Homo sapiens: one gene and its partner. The protein of the gene in region 2 purifies or fractionates together with the protein of the main gene of each other region. This does not show direct contact. Each region holds a gene or a part of one and is shown on either strand. Other genes may lie near its edges.

Region 1 (3,600 bases), on a different chromosome or scaffold from region 2:
TACACAGCTTCAGTTTCTGACTTGGGAATTATTCTTAGTTATGATGATGGTGAGGCTTTAGCAGGAACGGGGACTAGGGAGGCCCCCTCAGGAATTGCTGCTCCAGCTCACAGATGGTTTTGCCTGGCAGGAGCTGATGGGAACTTGGTATTGTTACAAGGTGAAACAACATAGTTGACATTAATGTCTCTTGATGTGGATAAGACACATTGTTCAACTCACATCCCTCTTGTCTGTCTATACAGCCCTGTTCATTTAAGCCCACCTGGCCTCTTTTTGGTGGCATGCTTATAAAAAGTAGGCAGTGATCAGTGGCTTGAGATTAAGGAAATGATAAGCCGTGTCTTTGAAAGCAGATGCTCCTATTTATAACTCAGACATCCTATACTTTTACATTCCATGAGGTGGGGAACAGGACATGACTGACCACAGGGAAATGGTGGCAGGGCAGGTGCCTCGCCCGTTAGAAGCCTGCCCTCCCTCCAGGCTGGGAAATGCTTATTGTTAGGCAAATACTGAGGCATGTTGTGGGGTACCTGCAGCTACAGGATAATGTTAATTCAGCTTTTTGTGTATTAAGTGCCTACTCTGTGGTGCTTATGTGCTGAGGATGCAAGACAAGGATCTCTGCCCTCATGGCTCACATTGTTGAGGGGTGGGGATGTCATCGTTACCTAAAGCTTAAGGGGGAAAGAGCCTTGTTCAGTGTACCTGCAGGCACATCTGCATGAGCTATGGCAGGAAACTGAAGAGAAAGCTGGGGGCTTGTGCCAGGCTCCACTCCCAGGCCTTTTGGGGTGTGTCTTCTCTTGTGTCTGCCATTGGGTGGAATTGGATTGCACGTGCACGCAGTCCGCTCCTCTGCACAGCCAAGGCTTTCTGGGGCCCCGAAATGAAACCTTACAGTACCTTGGAAGTCCAGCCTGGGTAGCTTTGTCCAGCCTGTCCAACCCGGGTACCCGAGGATCTGCTGTGACCCAGAAACATGACTTAGGTTATAGCCCAGCCCCCATTTTACTCACAAGGAACCTGAAGCTTGAGAGCTTGAGTGACCGGTGTGAACAGCAGGCCTGGGATTCGGATCCCTGTCAGCCCAAGTCATGTGCTGGACCCCACTCACTGTGTTTTCCAGAACACAGTGAGCAGAGGGCCCCGTAAATACAGGATCTTGTCCCATTTCCCCTTGCAGCAGATCCACCAGTGAGGGTGCGGTGTGGAATTCCAGGGGATGCAACTGCAAGATCACCCATATTGGGACCAGCTAGAGCCATATGCTATTTCCAGACCTAGGCTTTCACAGATTCATGTTTCAGTGGAAGGAAAGGGAGGTTTAATGGTTATGGAGCACCAGCCACATGCTATGCACTCTGTTAGAACGGTCCTCACCACAGCCTGACAAGGTAGGTTCAACTTTAGGCTGGAGGCAGCATAGTACAAGAAAATAGAGTTAGGAGCCAGACTGCTTTAGGATAACAGTACCTCTGCATAAGGTCGTAATGAGGGTTAAGTAATATCTGTCAAGTGCATCCAGTAGCATCTGGCACATAGTGATGTAAACATTAACTATTGTTATTATCACCATTTTCCAAAAGTGTGCAAAGGGGTGTATGGTTAGTCCCTGTCTAGCTACTAAGTGGAGGAATTGGGTTTTCTGACTCCAGAGCAAACCGTTTTTCTCCACTCCGTACTGCCTGCCGATGGCTGCTTTGGAGTTTGTCTGGCTCTGGGTTGTGCCTTGAACGCACAACTTACCTAATAGAGCCTGGGGCTCTTTTCTCCATTAAAGACAAGCTCACTGTGAGCTGGGCACCATGTGTTGCCAGAGCCTCATGCTATATGTCAGGCCCGAATTCCTTGTTTGTGCCAGTGGAACCCCCTGTGACTGGAGGGTTCCTGCCCTCTTCCAGGCTTGGAAGAAGAGAGACAGGGCTGGGGACAGAGCATATGAGCTCTGTGAGAGCAGGGACCTTGTCTGTTTGGTTCCCTCTGAGTACCCCACACCTTGCACTGGCCGCCTGGCACTTAGCGCCAGCTACATAAACACTGAGTGAGAGCTGAGAGGCGGCTGCCTGCTCCACAGAACATGGTCTCTGCAGTTGGGCACATCTGGATTTGAGTCCTGTCTGCCACTCAGCATGTGACTGTCAGTGAGGCGGCTAATTCCCTTGGTCTCAGTTTTCCTGTTCCGTCGCATGAGGATAACATTTTATAGAGATGGGGAGTAGGGGTGAAATTTGTAATGTACTTACTCCAGTGCTTGGCACACAGTAGCTGTGGTTGTTGCATGTCTTATTCTGCATACCACAGAATAAGGGACACAAATAGAAGCCATCATCCCTGTCCTCTAATCTGGGAGGGGGAGGCAAGATGCGTCCAAAAAGCCAAGTGCAGCAGGAATGAAGTAGTACTAGAAAAGACTTAGCCAGGGACCCATGGGTGCTGTGGTCTGCCCATCCCTGCAGGCCTGGCTTGCATTTCCCCCTCCTCCACGCAGCCCTGCAGACCACTCCAGCCTGCAGTCGGCTTGGGGGCTGGGCATGAAGCCTGGGAAGAGTGTGCTCAGGCAGAGAGGACAGGGTGGGGTATGGTCAAGGGGACTGGCACAAAAGCAGAGGTCAGGGGGTGTGGTCACACAAGCAGTAGATGCGAGCCCATGGGGTGCCTCAGTCTCAGGAGTGAGTTGTGGAGTGCCTGAGTTGCTAAGCTAAGGAGTTTGCATTAGATCTGGGACAGTGTGGAGCCAGTGAAATTTTTGACAGGGCAGGTAGAAATTCGAGGAGGCTGGCAGAGCGGTGGTATTTTAGGAAGAGCCCTCTGGCTGTGCATGCAGGAGGCCTGGGAGGTGAAAGAGATGGGAGAGAGGCCTCCACAAGCATCAGCTTGTGAGCTTATGAGGGTCCTGGCCACTGTGCAGCTGTGGGTGTGGAAAGGAAGGGATGGTGGAAGGAGATAAAGGCAGAGTGACACGGAATGATTTACCACCTCTGGAGCTGAGGGGGTCTGCCCCAGAGCTGTCCCATGTAGGTGTTCTGATTGGACAGTTTATCATTGACACACAGCTATTTCAGGTCAGTCTAAATCCTAGATAGTGGTGTCTGCAAAGCCTTGAGAGCCTGTTAACAACTGAATGGGGATTTCAGTCTGGGTAGCCCAGTGATCCATCCAGCCAGTGACTCTGTGACTGCAGGTGGCACCAAGTTCAGCCTGATGCACACAGCATTAGGTTCTGGTGCCTAAGACACCAGTCTGCTGAGGGAGATGGTGGGGTGGCGGGCTCTGCATGGCAGCTGTAGGAATAACAGAAGCTAGTTTTTTTTTGTTTGTTTGTTTGAGACAGAGTCTCGCTCTGCCACCTAGGCTGGAGTACAGTGGCACGATCTCGACTCCCTGCAACCTCCGTCTCCTAGACTCAGGGAATTCTCTTGCCTCAGCCTCCCAAGTAGCTGGGACTACAGGTGCGTACCACCATGCCTAGCTAATTTTTTGTATTTTTAGTAGAGACAGGGTTTCACCATGTTGGCCAGGCTGGTCTTGAACGCCTGGCCTCATGATCTGCCTGCCTCAGCCTCCCAAAGTGCTGGGGATTACAGGCATGAGCCA
Region 2 (3,943 bases):
AGATCTCTTTAACATCTTCACTTGCTGTGGAAAAAGATAAAGAAAGTAAACTTTTTATACTTACATATAAATACTTTCCTATCTATATTGGAAAAGTTAATTAGAATACAAAGAAAAAATCTGGAGCATGTAGCATCCTTATTATCAGTATTATAAAACTTTACCGCATAAAATAACGAAGACTGTATACAATTAAGAAATATAAATATTAGCATTTTAAAAGTATGTTAATAATTCTAATCTGTTTTAGCTACATAATTCTGTGCAGAAATAACACTGGGGTGAATATACTGAAGTTACTCAAACCCAATAATGAGCAAATTACAATTTTGAAAAACTTTTCTTGCTCTTTTGAAAAATATTGAAAACCTGCTTTCATTCTCTAATTCAGTTTCAAGCTTATGACAGACACTCCTTCATCAATTCACTTTCTGTATTTTCCCGTTAAAAACAACAGTATATATCAAATATCCTAACTTGTTTAAAGAAAAAGACAATAAAATGCATTCAGTCTTAACTCTGGTTATATTTTTCTAACTTGCATTTCTCAAAAGCTAGATTAAACTCATTGAATAAATATGTATTTAATAACTAACCCTTGTGTTCCTATTAAAGCTTCAATTTCGTTCTAATTTCGTTCCTGTGTTGTCTATTAGCAGCAAGAACCACTATGTAAGTAGGTAGTGCTTGCTATAAGGCTCAAGCATGAGAGTCAATAACTACATATTTATATATCGAAATTAATGCGGATAAATAAAACAAAGTTTTCAGATTTGAGACTATTTTGCTTCTGCGTGCGTGCAGGGGGATGTGTGCGGTGGTGTCAAAAATCTTTACGAATAAAACATACAATTAAGTGTTCATCTGGGAGAAAGACTCGCTATTAACAGTAAGAGCTTGAGTTTACACTAGAACTCGTTAAGTGATCGCGAGTAACCCGGGGATATATTATTTGACTCTTGATGAGGTGAGTACCTGCAGGCTGCCCAATTTCAAACCAGGAAATAATGGAGGTCAGATATAACTGCATATTGAACTGTCTGCACGCATTACATGCAACCATACAGATCAGTTTCCCTTGGGGAGTATCTAGGAAAAAGATCAAAACACACGCTTACACTCGAGATTTCTCAGAACATAACTCTCATTTTCCTATTTGGAGAGAAAATGCGGGAGAGTTTTGGGAAGCACCCCTACTGATGTGAGAAAGATTCTGGCATGGTTCTTTTTGTAATCAAAGTCCTGTAATATTCTCCTTTGGACCATGAAAAAGAAAACTCGCCTGGTTCTCGACAGCGTACTGAAGCCCCAGTCGCCTCCACTGTCCCAGCTCTTCCCTACGTGACCAAAAGGGGGAAAGTTGGGCGACTGTCGGGGACGGTGGAAGGCACGCCCCCTTCAACCAGGCCGCCTCGAAAGCCAATTTCCTTCGCTCCCCCGAATTTCGGATCAATCTGCAACGTGACGGCAGCAGGGACCGGGCTGGAGGAGGACGCAGGCCGGCAGCGCCCGGGAAGCAGGAGCGCGGAGAGGCGCCGAGGCCCGGCTCGCCCCGCGAGACCGACTTCCGGAGCTCCCGGCCCGACTCCAGCCCTGCCGGTCCTGCAGCCCTCCCGGCTCTCCCGGCTCTCCCGGAAGCCCCTTCCCTGCGAGTCGCGCCGGGCGCTGTTACCTTGGATGCCGGTCTGGTGGGACATGGCGGCGGCCGCTAGCTCCCGGCTCCGGCGCTGAGTGCAGCCAGCGGCCCCGGCCGGCGGCCCCAGGAAGTGGCTGCTCCTCCGCCGGCCCCGGCGCGTCATCCGCCCGCGACCCGCGGCCGCCCCGCCCCGTGAGGTTGACTGAGTGCCCGAGCGTCCCCGCCGCCCCGCCGCCCTTCCTGGCCGCCGGGCTGCGGTCCAGCCCCCGGCCTCGCTATCCTAGTTCTCTGCTTGGGGTCCTGCTTCTGCTCTTGCCGCCGCCTCTCCCGCTTCTTCCGGGGGGGACATGCCGCAGAATCTAGACTGCTCAGTGCTCCGACGTCTGCTCTCTGACAACCCCGCCGACGCCGCCATTCGCTGCCTCAGCAAAGGGGTGCTCAAAAACGGAAGTGATCATTTTACCAAATAGGCATTTTCCAGCTTAAAAAAGATGTGCACATTATTTTTCTTGGTTTACTCTTCCTATAATCGATACCGTTTAGTGTAGAAAAGCCTTCTCCTTGCTCCATTGTTTTGAAAGAATTAATATAGACTGCCTCTCATCAAATTTTTCCACGATTTTAAATTAAGTTAATCTCAGACTGTTAACTTTTCTTTTCAGCTGGACACATTTAGAGACTCAGTGTATCTTTCTCTTCACTCCGGAAAGAGACAGCCACTAAGAGATTAGCTGATTTGAGTATCCCTCTGTGGTCGATTATACCATTGCAAATCCTGCTCTGCTTTAGGTTGGCAGTTTATTATTTAATCCAGTAATTATTCAAAATTCACTTGGACAGATTTGTAAGGTAGCAGCAGATATTACTTAAAAATCTTTTCCTTTCCTGCTTTTACAAACATGTAGTTCCTTCCTGAAAGGTAATGTTAGTTTTGTGGGGGGTTTGGTTTTTTTTTGGTACTGCTTCTCTACTGCTACTAGGTGGGAAGCTAGTTCTTATTTTTAGGGCCTTGAAGTGACACATACACAAAATTATAATCTGCTAATGAAGAAATAATTTATTCAGGTCAATAATATAAGTGCAAGTTAATCACTGTTCCAGTACTATACGATGTATTTTTCATGAGTGATGAACAGGCCTGCAATTGTTTTTCTTTACAAGAATCACAGCAAACAAGGTTATGTTCTATTGCCTGTTATCTGAGCTCTGTTTTTCAGACATATTCTCATATTCAGGAATAAACTAAATCTGAGTTTTATGACTTGTATGGATTTAAGAAATGTAGGGAGGAGTTTCATTCTAATCAAATTCTTCCTGACACAATGGTTCACCCTGATTTACCAGTTTTTGACTACATTGCTGAGCAGAGAGAAAATTGCAGAGTTGACTTGCAGTATTTTGACTGATTCATGTCCTAGTGCTTCGGGGAAATTGCTTAAGGAAGTTGGCGTTGCTCAAAAGTATAGTTGAGCAAAATATAATCCTTCCATATTCGTGCTTGGGAAAGGCCACTGTATTCTCAGTCCTGAAGAAGAGGAATGTCTAGTTAGGTTGGGACCACCCTGACAGCCACCAGAAAGTGCTTATTTACTGCCAGTACAATAGTTTGACTTAAAAGCTGCAAGCGTCTTGGGTACCTTGCTCTGCTCTAGCCACAAATATTTTCCCACTTTTCTTCATCTATTGTGTCTCCATTTAGTGAACATTTGCCAGAGCTGTCATGAGAATAATACCTTAGATTTGTATGGTAGTTTACAGTTTACAAATAATATATAATAGACTTATTTTGAGTACCAACATCCTGTGTGACGAGCTGAAAAAAATAGCAGGTTTTGTTTTTTAACTTTAAGAGGTTTGGAAATTGAACCACAGAGTTGGGAAGTCAGCAGGTTTCAAGGCTAAGACAAGTGTCTGTAAGAAACAAACCATTTGAAAACAATGTATGCAGATAAGAGGGTTTATTATAAGGATATTGGAGGATCTTATAGATCTTGACAACTTGGTTGTCACCTCTGCTTTTCTCTTCTTTTTCTCCAAATAAGATCTCTCTGCTTGTGCAGTCAAAATGGCTGAATATGGCTACCCTACACTTTCCAAATTGACAGGGTTGTAGCTGCATGCAGAGATTACATAGCTCTTCTAAGTCCAAGTTTAAAGTTCCTAAGAGAAAGCACGTGAATGACCCTGCTTGGCTTGTGTCAAATCATTCTTGGCCAAGGTGGCTGGTTTACCCAATATACACTGCCCATGAGTGAAAGGCAATTATCACAGGAGGGGAGATGGATCTTGGGTGTGGGAAACAGGTGT

The links.
Region 1: the proteins of TWF1 (region 2) and CAPZB purify together in Homo sapiens (affinity purification with mass spectrometry; 3 studies listed by BioGRID and IntAct, with this or other methods). This does not show direct contact.

Annotation. Positions count from the first base shown.
Region 1 is NC_000001.11:19,478,940-19,482,539, reverse strand, and holds part of CAPZB (F-actin-capping protein subunit beta), read left to right. Parts: intron 1-3,600. UniProt on the Homo sapiens protein: F-actin-capping proteins bind in a Ca(2+)-independent manner to the fast growing ends of actin filaments (barbed end) thereby blocking the exchange of subunits at these ends.
Region 2 is NC_000012.12:43,804,549-43,808,491, forward strand, and holds the start of TWF1 (twinfilin-1), read right to left. Parts: upstream 1,770-3,943; 5' UTR 1,698-1,769; coding exon 1,673-1,697; exon of another isoform or gene 1,283-1,672; intron 25-1,282; coding exon 1-24. UniProt on the Homo sapiens protein: Actin-binding protein involved in motile and morphological processes. Inhibits actin polymerization, likely by sequestering G-actin. By capping the barbed ends of filaments, it also regulates motility.